Regions from separate parts of the Homo sapiens genome. Here region 2 is linked to region 1. A link means that fine-mapping ties the variant in region 1 to the expression of a gene that starts in the linked region. Tissue or cell type: prefrontal cortex. Region 1 holds a variant in brackets; the other region holds the start of a gene. All regions are shown on one strand. Distances are from middle to middle.

Evidence for each region. PIP is the estimated chance that this variant, and not a neighbour inherited with it, causes the effect.
Region 2: NEK2 starts here. The variant in region 1 is fine-mapped to the expression of NEK2 in prefrontal cortex (CommonMind, PIP 0.95).

Annotation. Positions count from the first base shown.
Region 1 is chr1:211,763,782-211,771,964 of GRCh38, reverse strand. All of the region lies in intron 6 of LPGAT1 (lysophosphatidylglycerol acyltransferase 1), which reads left to right. Among named protein-coding and RNA genes, the nearest start is that of LPGAT1, 63 kb to the left of the region's middle. RefSeq lists an enhancer at 6,233-6,402. The variant T/C (reference allele first, on the strand shown) is at 3,899.
Region 2 is chr1:211,671,492-211,679,674 of GRCh38, reverse strand. It overlaps NEK2 (NIMA related kinase 2), which reads left to right and starts at 4,054. Exons shown (of 8, transcript NM_002497.4): 1 at 4,054-4,291; 2 at 5,162-5,379; 3 at 5,952-6,192. The coding sequence starts at 4,196. NEK2-DT (NEK2 divergent transcript) reads right to left here and starts at 3,913. Exons shown (of 4, transcript NR_148994.1): 1 at 3,809-3,913; 2 at 2,521-2,608. RefSeq lists enhancers at 3,774-4,068, 4,091-4,350.

The sequences.
Region 1 (8,183 bases):
ACAGGGTTTCTCTAAAAAATAAAAATAAAGTATTTGAAGAAAATATAGGAGACTCTTAATGTCTTCAAGTAGGGTACCCCTTCCTTACAAGACCCAGAAATCAGAAGTCATAAGTCATTAAGGAAAAGATAAATATGAGTACATCAAAACTAAAAACTAGGCTGGGCAGCACGGTCGCTCACGCCTGTAATCCCAGCACTTTGGGAGGCCTGAGGCAGGCAGATCCCTTGAGGTCAGGAGTTTGAGACCAGCCTGGCCAATGTGGTAACCCCATCTGTACTAAAACTACAAAAAATTAGCTGGTATGGTGGTGAGCGCCTGTAATCCCAGCTACTCGGGAGGCTGAGTCATGAGAATTGCTTGAACCCAGGAGGCGGAGGATGCAGTGAGCTGAAATAGCGCCACTGCACTCCAGCCTGGGTGACAGAGTGAGACTCTGTCTCAAAAAAATAATAATAATAAAAATAAGTGAATAAAAATAAAATGTCCAATTAAAAAAAAAATCTAAAAACTAGAGTGTTCAAGAGACACAATAAAGTGTTTGAAGTGCACATAACAAAAATAAGTATTGAGTATACAGTCATGTGTCACTTAATGACAGGGATACCTTCTGAGAAATGTGAAATTAGGTGATTTCATCATTGTACGAACATCATAGGGTGTACTTAGACAAACCTAGATGGTATAACCTACTACACACCTAGGCTATATGGCATAGCCTTTTGCTTCTAGGCTGCAGACCTGTACATCATATCACTGTAGTGAAGACTGTAGGCAATTGGACCACAATGGTAAGTATTTGTGTATCTAAACATAGAAAAGGTACAGTAAAAATACCGTATAAAAGTTGTTTTTTTTTTTTTTTTGAGATAGTGTCTCTCTCTCTGTTGCTCAGGCTGGAGTGCAGTGGCGCAATCTTAGCTTACTGCAACCTCCACCTCCTGGGCTCAAGTGATTCTCCCACCTCAGCCTCTCGGGTAGCTGGGATTATAGGCATGTGCCACCATGCTCAGGTAATTTTTGTATTTTTAGTAGAGATGGGGCTTTACCATGTTGTCCAAGCTGATCTTGAACTCCTGGGGTCAAGTGATCCACCCACCTTGGCCTCCCAAAGTGCTAGGGTTACAGGTGTGAGCCACGGTGCCTGGGCAGTATAAAAGAGTCTTAAAATGATACGCCTACTATATATGGAGCTAGTAGGACTGGGAGTTGCTCTGAGTGAGTCAGTGAGTGATGAGTGAATGTGAAGGCCTAGGATATTACCCTATACTACTGTAGACTTTATAAACACTGTACACATAGGCTACACTAAATTTATTTTAAAAATAAAGTAATTGTGCTATGGCATTACAATGACTATGACATCACTAGGCAACAGGAATTTTTCAGCTCCATTATAATCTACGGGAACCATTGTCATATATGCAGTCCGTCGTTGACTGAAATGTCATGTGGCACATGACTATGTATGTAAACAGCTCAATGGTTTTTACAAATCAATAATAGTATTTAAAACCCAGAAGAAAAATGTACAAAAGACACAAAGACTTTTCATTGTTTATAGAAATAAAAATATATGAAAAGATCAGGGAAATGCAAAACAGGGCAAAATACTATTTTTTACTCATCAATATCAAATATTGGTGAGCTTTTAGGGAAATTAACACACACAAATCGATGCAGCCAATCTGAAGAGCAGTTTAGCAATATTTTAAATTATCTATGACATAGCAGTTCTACTTGGGGCTATATATCCTAGAGAAAGACAGGATATTACTGCAAGATATTTTGTAAGAGTAACAAATTAGAAATAATCTAAATGTCCATTAGTAGAGGGATGACTAAATAAAATATTGTGTATTATTTTTTGTTATGAGAGCATTAAAAATATCATGTATTCTTCAAAGGAATATACTTAACAGATTTTTATTTCTGAGTGTTTGACTCCTTCACTAGTATGTCTAATAGTCCTCTTGTCAGAGGCATTTGAACCAGAGCAACTCCATCTTGAGTAGGGGCTGGGTAGAATAAGGCTGAGACCTACTGGGCTGCATTCCCAGGTGGTTAAGGCATTCTAAGTCATAGGATAAGAGGTTATGGCACAAGATACAGGTCATAGAGACCTTCCTGATAAAACAGGCTGCAGTAAAGAAGCTGGCTAAAACCCACCAAAATCAAGATGGGAACAGGAGTGACCTCTGGTTTTCCTCACTGCTACACTCCTGCCAGCACCATGACAGTTTACAAATGCCATGGAAATGTCAGGAAGTTACCTTATATGGTCTAAAAGGGGAGGCATGAATAATCCACCCCTTGTTTACCGTATAATTAAGAAATAACCATAAAAATGGGCAGCCAGCAGCCATCAAGGCTGCTCTGTCTATGGAGTAGCCATTCTTTTATTCCTCTACTTTCTTTATAGATTTGCTTTCACTTTAGTCTATGGACTCACCCTGAATTCTTGCCCGAGATCCAAAAATCCTCTCTTGCGGGCTGGATCAGGACCCCTTTCCCATAACACTCTCTCAAACTGAACTGTGGATTTTCCTAAAAATATATACTCCTTCATAGCCTTTACCATCTCATTATTGATAGCAGCCTCCATCCTTCCTGTCACTTAGATCAGAAGCCTTGGGGTCGTCCATGGCTCCTCTTTTTCTCTCATATTCCACATCCACTCAGTCAGGAAATCTTTTTGCTTCTAAATTTAAATACATATCCCCTGACCACTTCTTTTCATCCTGGTCCTAGCCACTATCACCTCTACCCTGCTCCTAGATTACTACATAAGCTCCTAGTGTGTCATCCTATTTTTACCTTTGTCCGCTGGAGAATTCCAACATAGTATCCAGAGTGCTCCTTTTAAAAGTCAAATTGTGTCTGTGCTAGGCTCAGAATTCCATCATGGCTTCCCATCTAAAAACCCCTGAAGTCTTAGAGTGGTATCTAAGGCCTTATTTGACCTCTTCCTTCTACTCCTTAGTCATTCCCCTGTGTCTATACTGGCTTTCTTGCTGTTACTGAACATCCCAAACGTATTCCTACTTCATGTTCCTACTGACTGTTTCCTCCTCCACGAGAAGTCTTCCCTTGGAAATCTGTATGAAAATCACCATCACTGCCTTCAGGCCTGCTCAAATGTCCTCTTACCACCCTACTTCAAATTGCAGTTGTTCCCCTCAGTCTAATATGCTTAAGAGGATTTGGGATGATTTTCTAATGATATTTCTTGTATTTGAGCATTATAAAAATGGTATTCAAAGCTCATTTCATAGAGATAATGTCACACCATAGATACCAGAATTAAGCTCTGAAAACCACACGATAGAGATATGTGTTTTGACACATATTAACGTCTCTGAAATTGGGAGACATCTTAAAATCAATGTAATAATGCACTGGCTATAATTTAATTGGACATTTGGCAGGCAGCACTTCAAACAAAAGTCTAAACGATAAATGTTGTTCCTTTCCCTGCCCCACAAAAAAAGAGCAGGCAGCATAGTGGCTGCCATGTGGTTAGAGCTCAACTGTTGACAGTGGGTGCCTCTGGGGAGGGACTCGTACTTTTCATTGTACTATTTGAGTGTTTTTTACAATATGCATGTATTCTTCAATTAAAAATAACTAATTCAAAAAAGAAATTGCCCACAGAATTTAGGATTTTGGTTTAATAACTATTTGAATAATTGCAACAAAAGCATTTTCATCTGGTAGGTATAAAAATTTAATAAGCTCACATTTCAAATGCATACCATTTAATAAGATACTAAATAGGTTTTTCCCTTTTAAATCAAGGATATTGAAATACTCAAATTACATAGTCTAGATTTTCATATTCTAGTGTTTTATCCATAATTTAAAACTGAGCTTTAAGAGATTTTAATTTACATAATTC[T/C]TTTTTGACATAAAAGTTAGAACAAAGTAAAATAAAATTAATATAGTAAAAATCAGTTATTCAACATATTGGGGACCAACTTTTAGGTCAACTTTTTGTAATAACTGAGAGTAACTCTAAGGTATACACCCTCGGGTACAGTAATGATATATGTTCAGGTCTTTGCCACCCTCAGCCCCAGCCCCAAAATTACTCACCTAATGATAATATTGCCTTTAAGGATTTTTGAGCTAATAGTTTCATTTTTTCCCCAGTAGAAGGAAACAGTGTCCTATCTTTAGTTTTTCTTATGCTAGGACTTTTCTCTATCATTGCTTATAATTATTGATAATTTCATCTCTACTTCAGCTATCTAATAATTTTCTTCTTCTTTTCTGCTTTTCTTATCATCACTTGTTTTTTATTGCTTTGCCTCCATATCCTGCTCTTCCCTAGAGAAGTCTGTATGTTTTTCGCCATCAGTCACTGTTCAGAGCTACCAGTTGGAAAATGGAAAATTACATATTAACTTTAAACAAGTTTTTAGTTCTGCTTCACTGTTGTTATTAAATGTTCACTGCCTAAAAGTTTTTATTTTCCACACCAGCAGGTTTTCCCCCTTTGCTTCAAAAAAAACTAATAAAACTTTTCAGGCTGGGTATGATGGCTCATGCCTGTAATCCCAGCACTTTGGGAGGCCGAGGTGAATGGATCACTTGAGGTCAGGAGTTCGAGATCAGCCTGGCCAACATAGTGAAATCTCATCTCTACTAAAAAAAAAATTAGCTGGGCATGGTGACATGTGCCTCTAATCTCAGCTACTTGGGAGGCTGAGGCAGGAGAATCACTTGAACCCAGGAGGCAGAGGTTGCAGTGAGCCAAGATCATGCCACTGCATTCCAACCTGGGTGACAGAGTGAGACCATGTCTCAAAAGAAAAAAAGAAAAAAACTTTTCAGTTTGATGTCATTCAGGATGGAGACATGAAATAAGTGGTCTTAATTGAGGTTTAGCTATATTGTGAATCAAATTCTGTGTTTCTGTAATGATGTTGAAGAATCAGGTGAATCATCCTTACAAATAAGGTAAAATTTCTATTCTCTAATTGGAAGATATGCCTAATTTCAGATATTTAGAAAAAGTATACATGAAAGAAATTTTTTATGTTACCATAATAAGTCAGGGTTCTCCAGAGAAACAGAATCAATAGGACATATAGATGGTCCCTGACTTAAGGTAGTTAACTTCATGATTTTTTGACTTTATGATGGTGTGAAAGTAATAGACGTTCAGTAGATACCACAATTTGAATCTTGAATTTTGATCTTTTCCCAGGCTAGTGATATGCGGTACACTACTCTCTGGAGATACTGGGCAGTGGCAGTGAGCTGCAGCTCCCAGTCAGCCACATGATCATGAGGGTAAACAACCAATACTCCACAGTGTACTGTGTTGCCAGTACTTTTTGGATATTGTGTTTTTTGTTTTCACATCCCATCATCTCTACAAAATGCCCATCTGTGTGCAGTATTAAACACTTTATTATAGAATAGGCTTTGTGTTAGATGATTGCCCAACTGTAGTTTAATGTAAATGTTCTCAGCACATTTAAGGTATGCTAGGTTAAGCTATGATGTTCAGTAGGTTAGGTGTATTAAATGCATTTTCGACTTACAATGGGTTTATCACAATGTAACCCCGTTGTAAGTCAAGGATCATCTGTATAAAGATATGTAGAAAGAGATTTATTATGAGAAATTGGCTCATGTGATTATGGCTGCTGAGAAGTCCCACAGTCTGCTGTCTGTAAGCTGGAGGCCTGGGAAAGCCAGTGGTGTCGTTCCGGTCCAAGCCTGAAGGACTGAGAACCAAGGGAGCCAACGTTGTCAGTTCTAGTCTAAGTCTGAAAGCCGAAGAACTGGGGAGCTGATGGTGTAAGTCCTGGTCCAAGTCAAAAGGCCTTGAGAATTGGGGTACTAACTGTGTAAGTCCCAGTCTCAGTCTGAAAGCCCAGGAACCAGGAGCACTGATGTTGAAGGGGAGGAGAAGATGTATGGCCCAGCTCAAGCAGAGAGAGTAAATTTGCCCTTCCTCTACCTTTTTGTTCTCCTTGGGCCCTCAATGGATTAAATGTTGCCTTCCCACATTGCGGGGGAAGGGAGTGTCCACTTTACTCAATTCATCAATTCAGATGCTATTTTCTTCCAGAAACACACACACAGACACACTTAGAAATAATGTTTTACCAGCTATCTGGGCATCCCTTAGCCCAGTCTAGACTTAGCCCAGATATGAAAAATTAACCTATACACATAGAACTAAAATAATAACAGACAAAGCTAATTTACTGGGTTATTATCAATAGATGAATGTGGATATAATATGATCTTGAAAATATTATAATTTGGTAAGTAACTGGAAATAAGCATTGGAAATAAAGAATTCTCTCCCCACCTCCTTGACTCTTTGGGGGTTTACCATGTCTTTTTCACTTTTAGGTCTTCTTAAGGTCTAGCAAAGTGCCATTGTTATTCCAAAAATACCTCTTATTTTCTAATATAGTTTTGTTGGAAATATTATGCCCCCAAATACAAAAATTCCTAGGGTTTTAATTTTAATTGGACAATGGTTAAACATAATTCTCACTGATAATTGCTGTTTATTTTTTACTTAGTCATTGAATCTGAGAAATGGAAGGACTACCTAGATCTTTTTGTCTAACCTTTTCATTTAACTTATTCTCAAAATTTGAGTGAAAAAAATGACAGAAAAAATAGATATGGATAGAGAGAATGACAAAGTAAAGCAAATGTGAGAAATATTAACATTTGGGGAATCTGGGTGAAGCATATGAGAATTTTTATACTATTTTTACAACTTTTCTTTGAGTCTGAAATTATTTCAAAATAAAAAGTTTAAAAACATCGTTAGACACATGGAAAGTGTAATAGTGATTCTCTTAAGCAGAGAAACCAATGTCAGATTTTGCTTACCGGAGAGTTCACTTCTGCTCAATCAGCAAGCATTTGTTAAGCATCTTACTGTGTGTCTCAAAGGATATAAAATTAATAAAGATATAATAAATTCCAGTTCTAAAAATGCCATCTCATTGTTTGTATCTCCAAATGGCATTTTGAGGGCTCTTGACTGTTGCAAGGAACAAGGCTCAAGAGGAGGGCTCAGTTATCCTTGACTGAGAAGGGGAAGCAGTGGCCTAGGTGCTAAGTATTTGCCATCTTCCTATCTACACAAACTTTAAAGTCACTCAAAAGTATCTGCTGGTATGTCCCTAGGTTTGCTACCTGTATAGTCTTTGGAAATACCTGCCTTGGTTTATTTCCTGTATTAAAGTAGGTAAAAGTTCATATTTGAGTTTCTGAAATTTATTTTCAGATAACTGAGTGATTTCTTTTTTAAACTGTTCTAATAGTTCCAGGGGGAAGCTATAAATATTACATTTTAGTATGTTGTTAGGCCTAACAGCTTAGCTCAGGATAATGGCTTAAAGTAAAACTTCTGGGAATTGAATGCTGGGAGATATTCTGATACGTTAAATTTGACAGTTTCTGTTTTTGTCCATAAATCTATTTTTTGTAACAAGTAGTTTCTGGATTTCTGAGTTATTGTTGCCACACTAACCCTGGTAGTGTCCATGAACATTGATGATTGTCTACAGATGACACCACATAAAGTTTTGTGCTCACAGATTACTGTAATTTAATTCTGTTCAGCAAACCTGAGTTCCTACTAAGGACTAGGCACTGATTTATACACTGGGTGCAAAGCTGAGAATAGCGCAGTCTGTTAGACAAAACAGGCACATGAGAAAATAAATAGAGCACAAACTAATAGGTATAATCATAGACACAGTTACAAAAGACAGTTGGCACTGAGAAGGATTTTTTTTTTTTTTTTGAGATGGAGTCTCTCTCTAGTCGCCTAGGCTGCAGTGCAGTGGCATGATCTCAGCTTGCTGCAACCTTTGCCTCCTGGGTTCAAGTGATTCTCCTGCCTCAGCCTCCCACATAGCTGGGATTACAGGCACATGCCATCACGCTCAGCTAATTTTTGTATTTTTAGTAGAGACAGAGTTTCACCATTTTGGCCAGGCTGGTCTCAAACTCCTGACCTCAGGTGATCCACCCGCCTTGGCCTCTCAAAGTGCTGGGATTACAGGCATGAGCCATGGCACCCAGCCCAAGAAGGAATTTTTAATTATCTAGGAGAGGAGAAGGAGGAAGCTGAAGGAGAAGAGGACAATGGTTTAAGATAGTCAAATTCTTACCTGCCGTAGTAGGAAACCAAC
Region 2 (8,183 bases), 92 kb after region 1:
TTTGTCACAGTGGAGTTTCTCTGTGTACTTAGGTTACATCCATCTCTTCCACCTACAGGACTATATGTCTGTCCTATTCACTGTGGTATCCTCAGCATCTGGCACCTGACTCAGCCTCTATTTATACTTGTTGGAGGATGAATTTTCCATTTAATAAGGCAGAGAAGATACATGCACATGAGAAGCTAGTAATATGGCCTAGTATAATTCTAAATGAGTAAAAACACAGTTGATTACTCTTAAGAGTAATTAGAAGATAGATCATAGTGGGTTGAAGTCAATCAGGAAAAATTTCAGAGAAGAAATTGGGCATGAGCTGAGACTTAAAGAATGGATGGAATATGAAGGAAAAAGGAAAGAAGTTATAGGGGAAAGGATGTTCCCTGTAACCTGTCCCTGTTTGACTCCCACATGCTTCTCATCTCCCAGTGTCTCTTTCTATTCTGGTGTCTAGTGGTCTCTGCTGGGCTGTCCTGCCCTCACTCATGATGCGGGCTAACTCTGGCCAACCTTTAGGGTTTGTCATGTGAGTGATTCCTATGCTACCCTTTTTTTTTTTCTTTTTTTTGAGACGGAGTCTTGCTCTGTCGCCCAGGCTGGAGTGCAGTGGCGCGATCTCGGCTCACTGCAAGCTCCGCCTCCCGGGTTCACGCCATTCTCCTGCCTCAGCCTCCCCAGTAACTGGGACTGCAGGCGCCTGCCACCACACCCAGCTAATTTTTTTGTATTTTTAGTAGAGGCTGGGTTTCACCATGTTAGCCAGGATGGTCTCGATCTCCTGACCTCATGATCCGCCCACCTTGGCCTCCCAAAGTGCTGGGATTACAGGCTTGAGCCACCGTGCCCGGACTTTTTTTTTTTTTTTTTTTTTTTTTTTTTTTTTGAGACAGGGTCTCGGTCTGTTGAGCAGGCTGGAGTGTGGTAGTGCAATCTTGGCTCACTGCAACCTCTGCCTCCCAAGTTCAAGCGATTCTCCTGCCTCAGCCACCCAAGTAGCTGGGACTACAGACGTGCCACCACACCCAGCTATTTTTGTATTTTTAGTAAAGGCAGGGTTTCACCATACTGGCCACACCCAGCTAATTTTTGTATTTTTAGTAGAGGCGGGGTTTCACCTTATTGGCCACGCTGGTCTTGAACTCCTGACCTCAGGTGATCCGCCTGCCTCGGCCTCCCAAAAGGCTGGGATTACAGGCATGAGACACCACACCCAGCCTCCTGTGCTACTCTTTATTATTGTCTTTGGGGCTCCACTGTCTTTTTTTAAATGAAAAGCCAGCATGTCAATACCTATCATACCTGGGCCATAGCAAGTGCTCAATAAATACTTGTTAAATGAGCATATGTGCGTAGGAGCCACATTCCATACTCTTGGGATGGCTCCTTTCCAGATATTTCGTCTCTGCCTAGAGCTGGGGCATTTGGCAATTGAGTACTTGAGGGCCCACTCAAAATCCTTGCATAATTATTAATAAGGGGCTTTCGCAGATTTTTATTTAACGAAGCTTTATTGCATGCCTTCTCTATTACAGGACTTATGCTGGCTATAAGCAGTTCGGAGTTCAGCTACTGTGAGAGCCATGTAAACAAATAATGATAAGTTTTGATTTATGTATAAAGTGGTCTATGAACACTGTAGATGGAGGATTGACTGTCCAAGTACGCCAGAGAGGCTTCTCAGATTACAGGAGAAAAAGTTGGAATTGAATCTTGAAGGACACGTTATGTCCTCTGGGCAGACATGACTGGAGTGGATAAGGGAGTGGGTTGGACAGTATTCTGGACAAATGCAATCACAGGTGCAAAGATGGTGGTGGTGGTGAGGAACTGAGAAAGTGTGCGTTTAGAGCAAAAGCAGAAGTGGCCAGAGAGAAGGTGCAGGACTGGATTTGGGGCAGGATAACCAAACGGCTCATTTTTTTTTTTTTTTTTTTCTTGAGACGGAGTCTCACTCTGTCGCCTAGGCTGGAGTGCAGTGGTGTGATCTCCACTCACTGCAACCTCTGCCACCTGGGTTCAAGCGATTCTTCTGCCTCAGCCTCCCGAGTAGCTGGGATTACAGGTGCCTGCCATTGTGTCTAATTTTTGTATTTTTAGTAGAGACGGGGTTCACCATGTTGGCCGGGCTGATCTTGAACTCCTGACCTCGTAATCCACCCGCCTTGACCTCCCAACGTGCTGGGATTACAGGTGTGAGCCACCGTGCCCGGCCAGGGCTCTGTCTTATACAGTTTCATGTTGCTATAATAGGATGCCACAGACTGGACAATTTATAAACAATAGTTTATTTGGCTCACGGTTCTGGAAGCTAGGAAGTCCAAGATCAAGGGGTAGCATCTGGCAGCAGCCTTTTCTCTGGGTCATAAAATAGCAGAAGGCATCACATGGTAAGAGAAACAGCAAGGGAAAGCCAAACTCATTTTTATAACCAACCGACTCTCAAGATAACCCACTCCTGTGATTACGTTAATCCATTCGTGAGGGGTAGCCCTCATAACCCAATCAATTTAAAGGTCTCACCTCTTAACACTTTTGCATTAAGAATAGTTTCCAACACATGAACTTTGGGGGATACATTCAAACCACAGCAAGCTCTATGGATACCAATCTGTAAGAGGCACAAAAATAAAAAAATGATGCTAATTAACACAGCCACTTGCAGTGCCTTACATAACTTTTGAAACCTAAATTGGTCCTATTCCCCTGAGGTAAGACAGTGCCCTTGAATGTTAATTTAAAAATTCTCCTGGTTGGCAATTCCAATTATCTTATGTTATATTCAGGGCATGTAATAAGTCCCTTATTTTTACATAAAGAGCTTTTAAATTCTTATTAATAGAAAATCAGGTGTCTTTTAATCCTTTGCTGAACAGATATTTAAAGAAAACTGGCCTGTTCATGCATTTCCAAATTATTAGCTTTCTGGTAATTTACATATTCCTCTAACAAGCCCTGGATGGAGGCCTCTAAGTCCTCCTTCCCTGGTAAACATGGGGCTGTTCATTTGGCTGGGTAAGCTGAGAACGTTGGTGTGTGGGTGCGTAAAAGAGAATCTGTGTTCAATGAAGTATTGTCGATAGGGTTAATTGTGTATTTGGCACACATAAACGGGACAAGACGTGTAAAGTACTTGGTAGGAGAGCGACAGTATTTCTCCTTTTTTTTTTTTTTTTGGAGACTGGGTGTCACTCTGTCGCCCAGGCTGGAGTGCAGTGGCGCACGGCTCACTGTAACCTCTGCCTCCCAGGTTCAAGCAATTCCTCATGCCTCAGCCTCCCAAGAAGCTGGGATTACAGGCCTGCAACCCCATGCTCTGTTACTTTTTTTTTTTTTTTTTTCATTTTTAGTAGAGACGGGGTTTCGCCATGTTGGCCAGGCTGGTCTTGAACTCTTGGCCTCGAGCAATCCGCCCGCCTCGGCCTCCCAAAGTGCTAGGATTATAGGCGTGAGCCACAGCGCCCGGCCTAATTTTCGTATTTTCAGTAGAGACGAGGTTTGCCCTGTTGCCCAGGCTGGTCTGAACTCCTGGGCTCAAGCGACCCACCCACCTCGGCTTCCCAAAGTGCTAGGGTTACGGGCGAGCGTGAGTCACCGCGCCCACCCGGGAGTCTGTATTTCTAATTTGTATTCAGCTCTCAGCATATCCTCAACGTGACCCCACCCAGGTTCAGGGTACTGGAACCTGAGCGAGGAATGCGTGTGCCGGGGAGAGTAGGTAGTGTGAGGGGCCAGAGTGCAAAGGTCAGAAGGCATCTGGTGGAAGCGGTGTGCAAAGAAGCCTGAGGGGAGGACCTTAGATCTCGGTTACCTTGGCGATCTCTATCAGAGGGTTAGAGTTGCCGAGAGGCGCCAGCTGCCGCTTCCTCTCTCCCGCCCTCCGTTTGGCTTAGCTCGCCGGGTTCTCCCACAGGTTAAAAGCAGACGCCGACGCGGTTGCCTAGTGACACTTTTCCCAAAATGCCTAGGGTATTGTTGTGTTCTTCTTAGCCAATGAGAGAGGCGAAGCGGCCCACCGCCTGCCAATAGACTGCGAGATCAGGGCCCGCGACGGTTAAACGGGGCCCAAGGCAGGGGTGGCGGGTCAGTGCTGCTCGGGGGCTTCTCCATCCAGGTCCCTGGAGTTCCTGGTCCCTGGAGCTCCGCACTTGGCGGCGCAACCTGCGTGAGGCAGCGCGACTCTGGCGACTGGCCGGCCATGCCTTCCCGGGCTGAGGACTATGAAGTGTTGTACACCATTGGCACAGGCTCCTACGGCCGCTGCCAGAAGATCCGGAGGAAGAGTGATGGCAAGGTGAGCGTGGGACCTACCCTGCGCCTGCCCCTGCTTAGGTTTCGTCGCCTCGGGGCGAGCGCCCTGCGCCACCGAAGGGAACCGACAGGGCTGAGGAAATGGGTGCCCGGAAGACTAAACCGTCTTTCCTGGGTCTGCATCTGACAGCCTGTCCTGGGTGGCTTAAAGGATGGGAGACCGCTTCTTTTGATATATGTATTTCCATCTTTTCCCGTTTCTCTCCCCATTTCTCTCTTTCTCCTGCTTTGGCTTGCTAAGGACCTTCCATTGGTGACAGGTAACTAATTCCTGAGCTGTTTTTAGAGCTCTAAGAGTGGCCCTCTCAGGCACAAGAAAGGGGCAGGACTACCAGAACCCGAAGCTTTGTATCTGCAGTCAGACTCCCTCAAAATATCCATTATTAGGATTATTGGATTCATATTTCCCAATGTATATAGGTAGAACTTTTACAGAAAGTAACATTGGACAGGAAACTGCCTGGCTGCTGATGGAGGGATCTTTACCAAGGTGTCTCATCCTGGGAAAACACGACTGGGGTGGAATGGGGCAGGGACTTTGACCACCTTCACCCCAATTTTGACTATAGTACCTTTTAGCCAACTTCCCACTAACCAACTGAGGGTAGGGGTTGGGGGAGTCCTCATGTGCCTCATTCCCGTTTGTCTCCCCACAACATACATTTACTGCTTAGAACTGGAGGAAGATTATGGAAGTAAACTCACAGCTCCTTAAGTTCATTGAACTAAATTAGATAATGACCTTGATTGTAGGATATAATTAAAAGGGAGGTAATTTGTTAAATCTTGGAACTTTCATTCTTTGTTTTTGAGCATAATGAGTTCATTCATACCTTGGAAATTCTTATTTCAGATATTAGTTTGGAAAGAACTTGACTATGGCTCCATGACAGAAGCTGAGAAACAGATGCTTGTTTCTGAAGTGAATTTGCTTCGTGAACTGAAACATCCAAACATCGTTCGTTACTATGATCGGATTATTGACCGGACCAATACAACACTGTACATTGTAATGGAATATTGTGAAGGAGGGGATCTGGCTAGTGTAATTACAAAGGGAACCAAGGAAAGGTAAGCATAATCTTTTAAAAATGTAAGCTGAAATTGGTCTAGTTTCATTTATTTTAAGCATCTTGTTTTAGGATCAGTAATATGGAAGAGTGTATTTGTATTTGTTTGGTAGGTCCACAGTACTTTAGAAAATTCCTGGTGAATCAACACCCATATTTTATATCAAAATAACAATTTATAGGCTGAGTGTGGTGGCTCACACCTGTAATCCCAACACTTTGGGAGGCCGATGCGGGAGGATCACTTGAGCCCAGGATTTCAAGACCAGCCTGGGCAACATAGTGGGACCCTGTTTCTACAAAAATTAGCCAGGTATAGTGACATGTGCCTGTAGTCCAAGCTACTTGGGAGGCTAAGGCAAGAGGATTGCTTGAGCCTGGGAGGTCGAGGCTGCAGTGAGCCATGATCGTGCCACTGCATTCCAGCCTGGGTGACAGAGTAAGACCCTGTCTCAAAAAATATAAATAAATAAATAAATAAATTCCCTATTTGTACACTGGATAATTTATATCATCCCATCTTGGCAATGATTTTTTTAGAAGTTATATGCTGTATAACTGCTTTGGTTTTAGGCAATACTTAGATGAAGAGTTTGTTCTTCGAGTGATGACTCAGTTGACTCTGGCCCTGAAGGAATGCCACAGACGAAGTGATGGTGGTCATACCGTATTGCATCGGGATCTGAAACCAGCCAATGTTTTCCTGGATGGCAAGCAAAACGTCAAGCTTGGAGACTTTGGGCTAGCTAGAATATTAAACCATGACACGAGTTTTGCAAAAACATTTGTTGGCACACCTTATTACATGTCTCCTGTAAGTATTTCAGAATTTAGCTACTTTTTAAAACATCTTTTATTTTTGTTTTCTTGTTTGTTTGTTTTTGAGACAGAGTCTCGCTCTGTTGCCCAGGCTGGAGTGCAGTGGTGCGATCTGGGCTCACTGCAATCTCTGCCTCCCAGGTTCAAAGGATTCTCCTGCATCAGCCTCCTAAGTAGAGTAGCTGGGACTACAGGTGCATGTCACTATGCCTGGCTAATTTTTGTATGTTTAGTAGAGACAGGGTTTCATCATGTTGACCAGGCTGGTCTCGAACTCCTGACCTCAAGCGATCTGCTCACCTCAGTCTCCCAAAGTGTTGGGATTACAGGCGTGAGCCACCATGCCCAGCCAAAACATCTTTTAATGTTAAGCATTCTGAAGCAGGGAAATTGAGTTTTCTGTTTGTTTAGTAATATCTAGTAGCCAAGAATTGAAAATACTGTTATATTTTTCCACATGGACCACCAGACCAATAAAGTCTATATCAGTTTTTGTTTGCTGCATGAGTTATGTGCATTAATGTAAGTATGATGAAGACAGATTCCTAGTCTAAGGTTTGCGCCGTTTGTCATCTCTCACTGGGTTCAATTTTTTGAGCATTCATGCAAATTAAAGCATATTCAGTTCAAGCTTTTATGGAATGACTATGATGCATTAAACTCAAGGATTACAAAAATGAAATGGATTTTGTCCTTGCCCTCAAGAGTTGTTTCCCAATGTGTAGGTCCTAGTTATCTGCATCAGACTCACTTGGAGTGTTTGTTTAAAATGCAGAGTTCTGGGTCCCAAACCCAAACCCAAATCCATCGAGTGAATTTCGATCTCTGGGTGGGTTCTTGAACTCTGTTTTTTTTTTTTTTTAATATTTTACTTTTTATTTTAGACTTTGCATTTAAGAGGCTCTGTAAATGATTCTTGTGTATGCAGAATCAGAGCTCAGGAAGTTTGCTCACTTCAGATAGCATGTTTTTACAATGTTAACTTTTTGTACATTTTATTTTTTTGTTGCCTATCCCTGAAATATCTTGCTGAGTCCACTCACCAATTACCTCTATTGCTGGATATTTTGTTTCCAACATGTTTCACCATTCTTAGAAGTACTGCTCTGCATATCTTTGTATGAATTATTCTTTCTTCCTTTTTGGTTATTTCCTTGGAGTGTAGCTCATAAAATGAAATTGCTGGGGTAAATGTTTATGGCTGTTATTAGATATTGTCTGATGGCTTTTAAAAAGTTTAAGTCAATTGTGATAGCACTAATGTGTTAGTATATAACATCTGAACAGATAAAGATGAAGAAATATTTGTTAGTATTTTAGTAGTTCACCTTTCTAGGATTTTCCAAATATTTATAAATTATGTTAACAGATCTTACTATAGTATAAAACTTTGTAAATTAATGATTTTGGTTTTGACTAAAAATAGCCAGAACAGTACCATTTTCTCACTGTATCAAATTCCAAATAGAATGTTTTTAACATAAAGGACAATTATCCAGAAGTGGTTCTTGGGAAATTTGAAACCTATTCTTTTGTTCCTTTTCCCTCCTGCCCTTGTAATTAGAGTGGTTCAGCTTTCCTAAGGCACTGATTGTCAAAAAGTGGCATCAGACTCACCAGTTGGACTTTAAAACACTAACCAGCCACTAGAGATTGCTTCTATTCCCTCTGTTGAGAATAGGAGCTCTGGTAGGCTGTTGTTACTGTAGATGTGGAAGAAAGGCAAACAATAAAATAGGTAAGGATAATATTAGTTACTACTGTGATTTATGGAGTGGACTAAGACAAAATATAAATGGATAATTCAATTAGCTATTTATGTCTATATCCATTTAAATGTGGACTAGATACATATTTTGACTATTCTTAAATTTCCTCTAGTTCTTTTAAAATGGTGTTTCTTAATTTGCCTTGAGAGTAGAAGTCTCTCATATTCACCTCTGTATTGTCAGTGCCTAGTCTATACTAAGCACTTTCATTTGTGAA